Regions from separate parts of the Homo sapiens genome. Here region 2 is linked to region 1. The links come from fine-mapping of genetic effects on gene expression. A gene starts in region 1. The other region holds a variant in brackets. All regions are shown on one strand. Distances are from middle to middle.

Evidence for each region.
Region 2: its variant is fine-mapped to the expression of ACSL4 in nasal epithelium (TOPMed, PIP above 0.99).

Annotation. Positions count from the first base shown.
Region 1 is chrX:109,730,815-109,736,199 of GRCh38, reverse strand. It overlaps ACSL4 (acyl-CoA synthetase long chain family member 4), which reads left to right and starts at 2,943. Exons shown (of 16, transcript NM_001318510.2): 1 at 2,943-3,061. LOC105373311 (a long non-coding RNA gene) reads right to left here and starts at 3,689. Exons shown (of 1, transcript NR_158569.1): 1 at 1,242-3,689. RefSeq lists silencers at 2,681-2,990, 3,088-3,208 and enhancers at 3,331-3,470, 3,531-3,580.
Region 2 is chrX:109,789,923-109,795,307 of GRCh38, reverse strand. No RefSeq gene overlaps it. Among named protein-coding and RNA genes, the nearest start is that of ACSL4, 59 kb to the right of the region's middle. The variant A/G (reference allele first, on the strand shown) is at 2,098.

The DNA.
Region 1 (5,385 bases):
TATTATTTATGTTCACAGTGAGATGATCATCTACGTAGGTTTCTGATTTCACCGGTTGTTTAACACAAGCCACTAAAGACAATATTTGGCCTGGTTGTTGGGTCTGCAAAAAATAAGGTTTGTTAATGACAAAATCTAACACAACTTGTCAATGCAAATATTATTATGAAGCCCTGCTGCTTGTATTTAGACCACAGGAGAAAATTATTATTATTCTACAAACCCGTGAAGTTTAACACGCAAAGGCTTGTTACACAGTCAATGAAGAACAGTTGTTTTCTGCCCTTCCATAAATAACTAATGCCAAGAGCAGCCTGGCTATCTGTTTCAGCTTCTTGTTACAGAATAATAAAATAGGCAAGGCCTAAATATCAGTGCCTGTTAACAGAGCTGTCCTTTAAATTCTGTTTAGCTTCTAACAGACTAATTCTCATGCTTTTAGTACTTATTACATTGCATTTTGAATCTGTCAATTGCATTGTACATTTTCCTAACTCTTCCATTTCCATACGTTTATCTACTCCATTTCTAATTGGGTTGGTAGTTCTGGGTAGGACTCATTACAGAGGCAGCTTAATGTAGCGGCAAGCACCCTGGTCTAGGAGTCATAAGCAGTGTAGTAGGAAATTCAGGCTCTGTTACTACTTAGTTGTGTGACTGGACAAGACACTTAACCTGCATCTATTTCTTCATCTGTGAAATAGGGATAATAATACCCTATCTTCCTAACTAATAAACAACGTTGCAAATGTTCTCTTTAAAATGTCAGACAGCTGCTTGGGAAATATTTTGCTCCTGGGCAGTAATTTCTGGAAGGTTTCTGATGACAAGAAATTAAGCAAGGTTTGTTTTGACTCCGAAAAAGGAAAGCTGGAAATAGCGTGGTTATACTTGGTTTCCTTTTTGGAGGTATAGTTCTTCTTTCCTCTTCAACTTGGGTGCAGTTAAATGTGGAAGAAGGTGAGATGTGGTAGGTGATGAAGACAGCCAGAACTGTACACACTAATGAATAGCTTAAGTAATAAGAGATCTTGAAAATCCAAGTAGTTTCTTGGTCTGATAAACATATCTATATGTATATCATACACACATTTGTATACCAAAAAACGGATAGTTTCAGGCTATAGTGATTTCTTTCCTTTATATCTTGTAGAGCTGGAGGAACTTCAGTAAGCTGAAGACTCTGTTCAGAGGAAATTACCTAATTGAAAATGTCTGGGCTAAGAGACCGACAATAAAGGAAACTGGCAAAAGTACTCTTTAATTACAAGTTCTTTTTCATCTTCATCCAGCACACTGATTTATGTGCTACACTGGGTTTGTATTATATCTATATTTTAATTCCACAACTAGACACTAACTTTATTGAGAACAGCGATATTCATTTCTTCAATTTCATTTGTGTTAACCCAACTGTAGGTGATAGTGCTCTGTACATCATAGTTACCCAGTGAATTACGTACCTGACATATGATTGCTTATTTCTGGTATTAAAACAAGATTTCATAAAATAAACATGACAATTAAACTCGTTGTTTGAAGTACTGAACTTTGTAGGTCAATCTTGAAAAAGGAAGCTACATGACTGTCTTAGCAATATTTATAGGTATATTATATGTAAGTGGGTGGGTTTCTTGGAAATTGAATTGGTAATATGGCTTTAGAGTAGTAACACAAAAACTATAGCTCTGTGCTCTCAGCTAACCACTTTTAGTGTCACCTGGGCTGCTTATTAAAAATTCAAATTTCTTATCCCTACCCAGATCAGAATCAAAATACCTGGGGGTTGTAGCTCCAGGTACCTACATTTCAACAAGCACCCCAGATAATTGTGATGCACACTGAAGAACTACTCTAGCTTGTAATCTCAGGTGGTAAGGCATTTTATATATACATATATATATACACACACACAAGCACAAATGGTAATTCTATGGGAAAATGGAAATCAGCAAGTGAAGTGAAATGTCAATTACCATCAGGAACAGGAAGCTAGTTCACCATTACGCATCAGGGAACTGGAAGAATTCTTGAGATTTATTTTTTTGGGTGATATATTCTTGGCAGTTTATCAGGCCTCATTTGCAATTATGGTCTGTCCCTTTTGAAGCCCTCAGATAGTTCGCTGGCATTTTAATTTTAATAGCAATTTCTTGCATCTGTTGGAACAGCATTCGTATGACCGGCTTATAAGCAATGATCAGGGCTAGTAAGATGTCACAAAGCTGCGGTGACTTTTCCTTATCAGTTGGGGGTTTTTTTGCCATGATACCATCGTGGAAATGAAAGACAACGTGAAAATCCTGCGTCCTTGTGATATTTCATCAGTGGGAGTGAGCGGGGATCTTAACGCAGTAAGAGGCAAGATAAACGGATGAGAGGCATTAGTTCAGGCTTACAGGAGCAAGATGCTTTTAGTCAAAGTGTTCAAGATAGCTCTCTTAAAGAGGAGCAGTGAAACCCAAAAATGAGTGTCTTTTGAGGGCAGCTGGAAGATGACCCGAGGGGAACTTTTATCCTGGGGTGGAGTCCTGCGAAGCAAGCCGCAGGTGAGGGCGTGGGCCAATTCTGCGCCTCACTGCTGTTAGGCGCAAGGACATCCCGAAACACACTCAACGACACCAGCAGCGAGACTGACAGAAGCGGATCGCCAGCGGGAGCAACAACTTGAGGCGAGCCGTTAGCCGCCTCGCCTTCCTCGCAGCGCCCCTCCCGCGCCCCGGGAAGCCCGTTCGGCTCCGCCTTTTCGACTGACGTCCCGGGCGAGCGGGGGCGGGCGCGTGGGTGGGCCGAGCCGTCTGCAGCCAGCGATTCGGCTGGCTCTGCCACACCACCGCGCGCCCCCGCTCCGCCCGCCCCTCCGGGCGCGTCTTTTCCGGGCTCGCGCTGAGTCCCGCCTCCGCCGGCTGTCCGGGTGCGCGCGCGCCGCTGCGGCTTTTTCTCTGGCCTCCGCCGCGCGCTCCTCCTCGTCCCAGCGCTAGCGGGCACGCGGTTCCTTTTTGCGAGCTTTCCGAGTGCCAGGCGCCGGCCGGCTGCGAAGACGCGGTGGGCCGCCCCTCCGGTGAGTATCCCTGGATGGGGAGGTTGCGGCCCCGGCACCCCTGCCCTGTCGGTACCAGGGCCCCATTTCCAGAGGGGGACTGGCGTACCTCACCTGAGCCGGGAGGAGGTTGGGTGGGCATTCCAGCTCCTGGAGTCGGCTCGCTTTTTTCCTTGAGCCAGGGCTATCTATCCGCTCGCCTCCGCTGGGGCCGGGAAGATTCCCGAGGTCACTGTATCTGCTCCTGTGATGGACTCTGGGGTCCTCGGAACCCCAGCCTGCCTCTTCCTGCCGCTCACCGCATCCCGAGGGCCAGAAGTCATCTTCCTGATCGGGGTACTAGGCTTTGCCACGGCCCTTTCCGGAGGAGACCATGAAGTGCTTGCTAGACCTCCAAACGACCTTTAGGGTGCCCCTAAACCTCAACTCCATTTTGTCCCCTCCCAGTCGCTCTGTAACTGAGGGCTAGGGAGCCTCTCTAGCCCTAGAGGCATCCGCCCTCTCGAATTTGAGGGATGCCGTCGCTTCCGATATCTTCCTTGCTTCCGATATCTTCCTAGCTTCCGTAGGCTTAGGTTTGTTAGAAAACAGCTGGATCCTGGCGAAGCGTGCTTTCCTTCCTTCCCCCACCCCCGTTCTTTCTGTCTACATCCCTGCCTTCAGTGGGTGCTATATATTTAGTATGAGCTTTATTCACTTCCTCTTCCTCTCGTTTGAGTGCCTGAAAGAACTGTGGCTGATGTCTATAGACATAGAAAAATCTAGGAGAATATGATTCATTGTCTAACCCCATCAAGGGGTTACATATTTTAAATAAGACGTCATTTCTCCTCTTCACTCCAGCATCTCCTCCTTCAAAGGCATTTTTCACCCTCTTGAAATTAATACGCTCTATTCGCTCTTTTCACCTAAAAAAAGGTCAATCGTCGCTCTGAGAAACAACAGTGAGATGCAAAATAAGGGTAAAATGGCATTGAAATGAATCCCTTTGAAAAAGTAAGCGGTTTGCTTTATCAGTTAATGGTCTCATCAGCGCTTCAGTTTCCTCTTCTGCAAAAATCAGTCTGTTGAACTAGAGCATATCAAAGGTTCCTTCTAGTGTTTTGATTCTAGGACCTCTAAATTCATGCAGGCTGCATAATGCAAATTTAACCTGATTAAAGCCTTATTTCTCATAGTCGCTTGTCACCTTAGTTTTTCTTTTATTTTGTCTCTAACAAGAAAGACTTTTAAATGTTCTTGATACGTAAGGCAGCAGGTGGAGATTCAATGATGGTACTGCCATTGAGCATATCGGTCAAGATTTTAACAGTGTAAGGCCTCTTCCTTAAATTGTAAAATAGCTCATCTTTTGATTGAAACTGCTAAAGTGTAAGACATGTAAGACTCCTGTTAGAATTAACACTCTCTGCCATTTAGGTGGGGGATGAAACATTAAACTGTTAGTATACTTGTACCTTAGAATAAAGTACCTTATTGTCCTGCTATAAGAAATAATTTGACAACTAAAAATCCATGGAAGGTGTAATACAGCAATTGAAAGCTTGAGTAAATTCAATTTTGTGGGTTTTTTTTTTTTTTTGGAAAACCCCCTATTTAAAAACACAAGTGATTTAGATTAAGATATTTCTTTCAGTATTTTTGGTAGGGGTGAGATGGGTGAAGAAAGAAGAGTCTTGTTCAATTCAGACAAGAGAAATGAATTGGAACTCTGGAGAGGCTCAGGTTCTAGACCCAACTCTAGATATATATTTAACCTTGAACAAGTCACTTCACCTCTCTTAGTTTTTGCATCTGTAAAATAAGTGTCTTTATGGTTGTTGAAATGATCCACAAGTCCCCCAATTTGAATGATATATTCTTATAATGAATATATATGACAAATATATATATACACACGTGTATATATAGGTATACACACACACATATAATGCAATTTGCGTTAAGGCTGTTATAAATCCTGTTATACCAGTTGACTAGAATGTTTTTCTCAAAGGTTTGTGTATAGTGGTTTCAATTTAGGTATACTTAGTTCTTAATCCTGATTAAATAAATAATTATATGTGAAAATCTATAAACTCAGAAGCATTTTACAAATGTTGGGTATTATGTTAATTTCTGCTTGCAAGTGAAATGTGTGTTATACCGCACTATTTTTTAAATGTCCATGGCTTTTAGAAATTTATAAGGGAATGGCTGGGTGTGGTGGCTCACGCCTGTAATCCTAGCACTTTGGGAGGCCGAGGCCGGCGGATCATGAGGTCAGGAGATCGAGACCATCCTGGCTAATACGGTGGAACCCCGTCTCTACTAAAAATACAAAAAATTAGCCAGGCGTGGTGGTG
Region 2 (5,385 bases), 59 kb before region 1:
CTTTCCTCCCGTTCCAGGGAGTCTCACCTCACTCATACCTCGCTGGTCCTCCTGTGTCTCTACTCTTAGGGTATCCCTTGTTTCCAACTTTTCTAGATTGTTTCCTTCAAAAAAATATTGTGTAGCTTCATGTCCTAATTTCTCACCTATACATTTTTATTCAATTAGTTCATATTAATAGTTACCTGACTATCCCTTTTCTCCCTGCAAATCTGTATGTAGTCTATATGGGGACCTGATGTGGAAAATGCTTTTACTTGAAAGAGGAACTTTAATTGGATGTAGGGGGATTGTTAGGTACTAAAGTAGGTAGTTGTGGAGAGGCTGAGATGAGGCTCAGCAGATGGCTGAGGCTTTGGGGCCCCTATTTAATCATACTAGCATATCTACTTTCTAAAAAATTAATTTAAACATTTTTAGGCTGAGCGTGGTGGCTCACGCCTGTAATCCCAGCACTTTGGGAGGCTGAGGTGGGAGAATCACTTGAGGTCAGGAGTTCGAGACCAGCCTGGCCAACATGGTGAAAGCCTGTCTCTACTAAAATACAAAAATTAGCTGGGTGTGGTGGTGCACACTTGTAATCCCAGCTACTCGGGAGGCTGAGGCAGGAGAATCGCTTGAAACCGGGAGGCAGAGGTTGCAGTGAGCTGAGATCACGCCACTGCACTGTAGCCTGGACAAGAGTGAAACTCCATCTTAAAAAAAAAAATGTATTGTGGTAAAAGAATACATAACAAATTTTAGCACCTTAACCATTTTAAGGGTACAGTTCAGTAGTGTTATGTATATTCACGTTGTTGTACCACAGATCTCCAGAACTTTTTCATCTTGCAAAACTGAAACTCTGGCCACATGTGGTGGCTCACGCCTATAATCCTAGCACTTTGGGAGGCCGAGTCAGGTGGATCACCTGAGGTTGGGAGTTCGCGACCAGCCTGACCAACATGGAGAAACCCCGTCTCTACTAAAAATACAAAATTAGCTGGGCGTCGTGGCACATGCCTGTAATCCCGGCTACTTGGGAGGCTGAGGCAGGAGAGTCGCTTGAACCCGGAGGCAGAGGTTGTGGTGAGCCAAGAGTGCGCCATTGCACTCCAGCCTGGGCAACAAGAGTGAAACTCCGTCTCAAAAAAAAAAAAAAAAAAAAAACAAACAAAACTGAAACCCTATACCCGTTAAACTGTAACTCCCCTTTTCCCCTTCCCCCAGCCCTGGGCAACCACCATTAGGAGTATACCTACTTTTGAATTGAGTTGGCCCCTGCTCACAAAAGGCTCAGTTGGGATATTAAAGGAAGACCACACTGTTTTTGTTGTACTTGTTGTTGTTGTTGTTTTTCAACCCAAAATGATTGATAGGGTTTATGGTAGAGATCAGGGACCTGCTCTACCAATTCTATTCTAAGCGGCAGGAATGACCTAAGTAACCATGCCAGTTGATAATAAATGAAATTTGATGAACTCTAGAGGCAAACATGAGTGCTGTGGAAGACCACTTAAAAAAAAAAGGTTCCTTTGGATCTTGCAAGTTCTATGATCTTCCTCTAAATTGTAATAATTCATGTAATCATCAAACCTGGTCTTCCTCTATTTATGTAGTTGGCATTTTCAGGATATAAATACAATAATAGGCTTGATGGTGCTGAGTACATTTCAATAAGAGAAAATAACACTATTAAGTCTATTCAGTGATAGGCGTTAACTTGATATAGCCTTTCTATAGGTATTTTTCAGTTGAATTAAAAAGAAGATAAATATCTCTTAATTAGTACATGAAACGCCTTCAGCATCAAGTAAAGAAGAAAATCCAAGAAGACCAAGGGAAAGTTTGCTTGCCCAGAGGGTTTGGCTTTTGAAGCATTAATCTCCTGAAGGAAGCTCTGAATCACCTTCCTGTGTGTTTTACCATCCCAGAGGAATGTGAGCACACCTCTAGAACCAAGAAAAGGCTTTAGGTCCGTAGGTTTCACTTGCTTATACTTGCCCTGTGGTAGTCTGAAAAAAAGTCCTCTCTCAGGTGTGTTTGTTTTGTATCATTTAAAATAATATAGCTATGACTTGCCTATCATCCCAAGACAATTTTCAGCAATAAACTTCC[A/G]TATATGATTATTGTCCATATTAATTTTTCTACCAGCCCACACATTCTTCAAGAGGCTCATTCTGACTTCATCCAAAGCAAAGGCACAAGTGCACTCCAATGTCTATTGTGTTTTCACCATGGAGTGTTCAGAGACATGAAGACTGCCTCTCATGGCGCACACTTTGGGGCATAGGTGGCATCAGGGCAGGGGTCATGCAGCAGAGCAGCAAGGTGAGGGATAAGATATTAAAAGTCAACAGAGAGAATGGGTTAGAAGACCAAGAGGTTAGACAAGGTCTGAGGGCTTCAGCCATTCTTGGGGGAGAAAGTGGGGAAGGGTCCTAAATCCAGAAAGATGGAATTTAAAGAGCAGTGACTGTGGGAACTTCATGACCTTCTTGTGTCTCATTTTATTATCAGCAAAGTAAAAGAATCAATCAATGTTATAGGTTAAGTTGTGTCCCCTCCCAAAATAATATGTTGAAGTCCTAACTACTAGCACTTCAGAATGTGACCTTATATGGAAATAAAGTCATTGCAGATGTAATTAGTTAAGATAAGGTCATACTGGAGTAGAGTGGGCCCTTAATTCAGTGTAACTGGTGTCTTTATTAGAAGAAAAGAGAAACACACAAAAAGAACTCCATGTAAAGCTAGACATAGAGATTGGAGTTACGCAGCTGCAAGCCAAGGAATGCCTGGTGTTACCAAGAGCTGGAAGAGGTAAGAAAAGATCTACCCCTAGAAGCTTCAAAAGGACTGTAGCCCGGCTGGCACCTTGATTTTGGACTTCTAGCCTCCAGAACTACGAGAGAATAAATTTCTGTTGTTTCAAGCCATCACAGTTTGTGGTATTTTGTCATGATAGCTCTAAGAAACTAATACAGTCAACATCTAAGTTTTCTTTCTGCACTAACACTTTCTGGCCCTGATTTAGAAAAGAATTTCTGATGGATATTGCAGTTTAATTGTGCCAGGCATATTTAATATTCAGTGAAATATAGATGACTATTCCAGGTAGCCTGATGAAATGTATGTTGATCGTAAGTTTTCTTTTCTTTTCTTTTCTTTTTTTTTTTTTTTTTTTTGAGACAGAGTCTCGCTCTGTCACCCAGGCTGGAGTGCAGTGGTGTGATCTCAGCTCACTGCAACCTCCACATCCCGGGTTCAAGCAATTCTCCTGCATCAGCCTCCTGAGCAGCTGGGACTACAGGCGCGCACCACCATGCCTGGCTAATTTTTGTATTTTTAGTAGAGACAGGGTTTCACCATGTTGGCCAGGCTCATCTCAAATTCCTGACCTCAAGTGATCTGCCCGCCTCAGCCTCCCAAAGTGCTGGGATTACAGATGATCATAAGTTTTCAAAGCTCATTCTGGAGAAAGCCACACCTTGCCTAAAAGGTGACATTTTATTTGGCTCCCTGTGGAAAAAGCAATGCTTCCAGTTGGAGATGTCATGCTGGAAGATAGCATGCTTGTTCTGGCTCCAAAAAATTAATGAGTTTTCAAAATGCCTATTGTAGTGGGGAAAAAAAAAGAGTAAAACTCTGTATGATGTCTCAGGCTGAAGTAAAATAGGAAGGAAGAGTGAGAGACACCTCAGTCTGCAGTCAGGAAAAGGAAATCAGAAGAGGTAAGGGAAGAATAGTCTTTTTATTTGAGTCATTAGGTAATTCCTCAAAAGATCAATTCAGGGTCCAGAGAAAGAAGGTACAGCATGTAATGTGTGCAGATAGAAACAGGGACAAAAGATAAGTCATGTTTTACTCTGGTTCATAGTAGTAGGTGATAATAATAATAACAGTTGTGAGAGGCAATCTGCCATGGTCCCTGAACATCCCTGCATGCTTTTGTTGAGTATGCAAAGCCTTGCCTACTCTTTACTTGGGCCATTTCTTCTCTTTCCCTCTCTCAACCTGCTTCTCAAGTTTCCAAGGAAAGGCCATTTCTAAGACATTTGTTTCCAGTGTGCATCAGAGAGGAGACAAGATCTTCAGGGACAAAGAGCAAGCTTGCTTACTGCCCATTGTAAAAGCTATAAATTCTCCAAGCTCAGTGTTCTTCCACTCTGATGCAAACCCACTGTGTACTCAGCATCTACCTGGGTTCCCAAATGTCAAGCCTGTGGAACTTGAGGGCAACGGGGAACCAATGCAAATATGCTGATGCTCATGTTACTTGCTGTGCTGTGAGTAAAATCCTTTACTCCTGAACTCTCATGTCTTCTGCCATCATCCATTAAACTGTGGAAAGCTAATTTGTTAGCTTGCCAGTGGCATAAAATCCCAGATCCTGACAATAATAAGTTGTCTTCATGTACTCTGATTAATAATAGTAACAGGTAATAATAATTTCAAAAACAGTAATTATTCCATTTATTGAGGGCTTCCTATGTGTCAGGCACTGATTTATGCACATTACATAAATTACTCATGTCATACACAGGATAATTTTACTAAGAAGTTAGATGACTTTCCCAAGGTCACATACTCTCTCTCTTATTTATTTATTTATTTATTTATTTATTTATTTATTTAGAGACGGAGTTACACTCTGTCACCCAGGCTGGAGTGCAGCGGCATGATCTCGGCTCACTGCAACCTCCACCTCCTGGGTTCAAGCGATTCTCCTGCCTCAGCCTCCTGGGTAGCTGGGACTACAGGTGTGCACAACCACGCACGGCTAATTTTTGCATTTTTAGTAGAGACAGGGTTTCGCCATGTTGGCCAGGCTGGCCTTGAACTCCCAACCTCAGGTGATCCACCCACCTCAGTCTCCCAAAGGGTTGGGATTACAGGCGTGAGCCACCGCGCCCAAAGGTCACGTACTCTCAAGGCTCCTGACCATTATCATTATTCTTTTTTCCTTGCCAACATCCTTTTTAATCCCCGAATTCTACCTTCTTCCTGTAATTCCTTGTTCACATAATCAAAATGATCATCATGTAAACGTAATGTAAAAATCACTGCCCCAGAGAACTCTTTTGTGTATTTCCTTTCTTCTTCTCAGCACAGTTGTTAATAGCCCAGACCCTGGAGCCAGCCTTCACTCACTAGCTGGGTGACCTTGGGGCAAGTTATTTATTCTCTCTGTGTCTCAATTTCCTTATTTGTAAAATGAAGGATAATAACAGTACCTACCTTATAGGGTTCTTGTGAGGCTCAAGTGGGCCAATATATGTAAAGGTTTACAACAGTGTCAAACACATAGTAATAATTGAATAAGAATTAGCTATTCTTCTTGTCACTTTTTTGAAGGTAGAATAGTCCTGAATCATCTTTTCTACCATATAAATGCCTGATTGA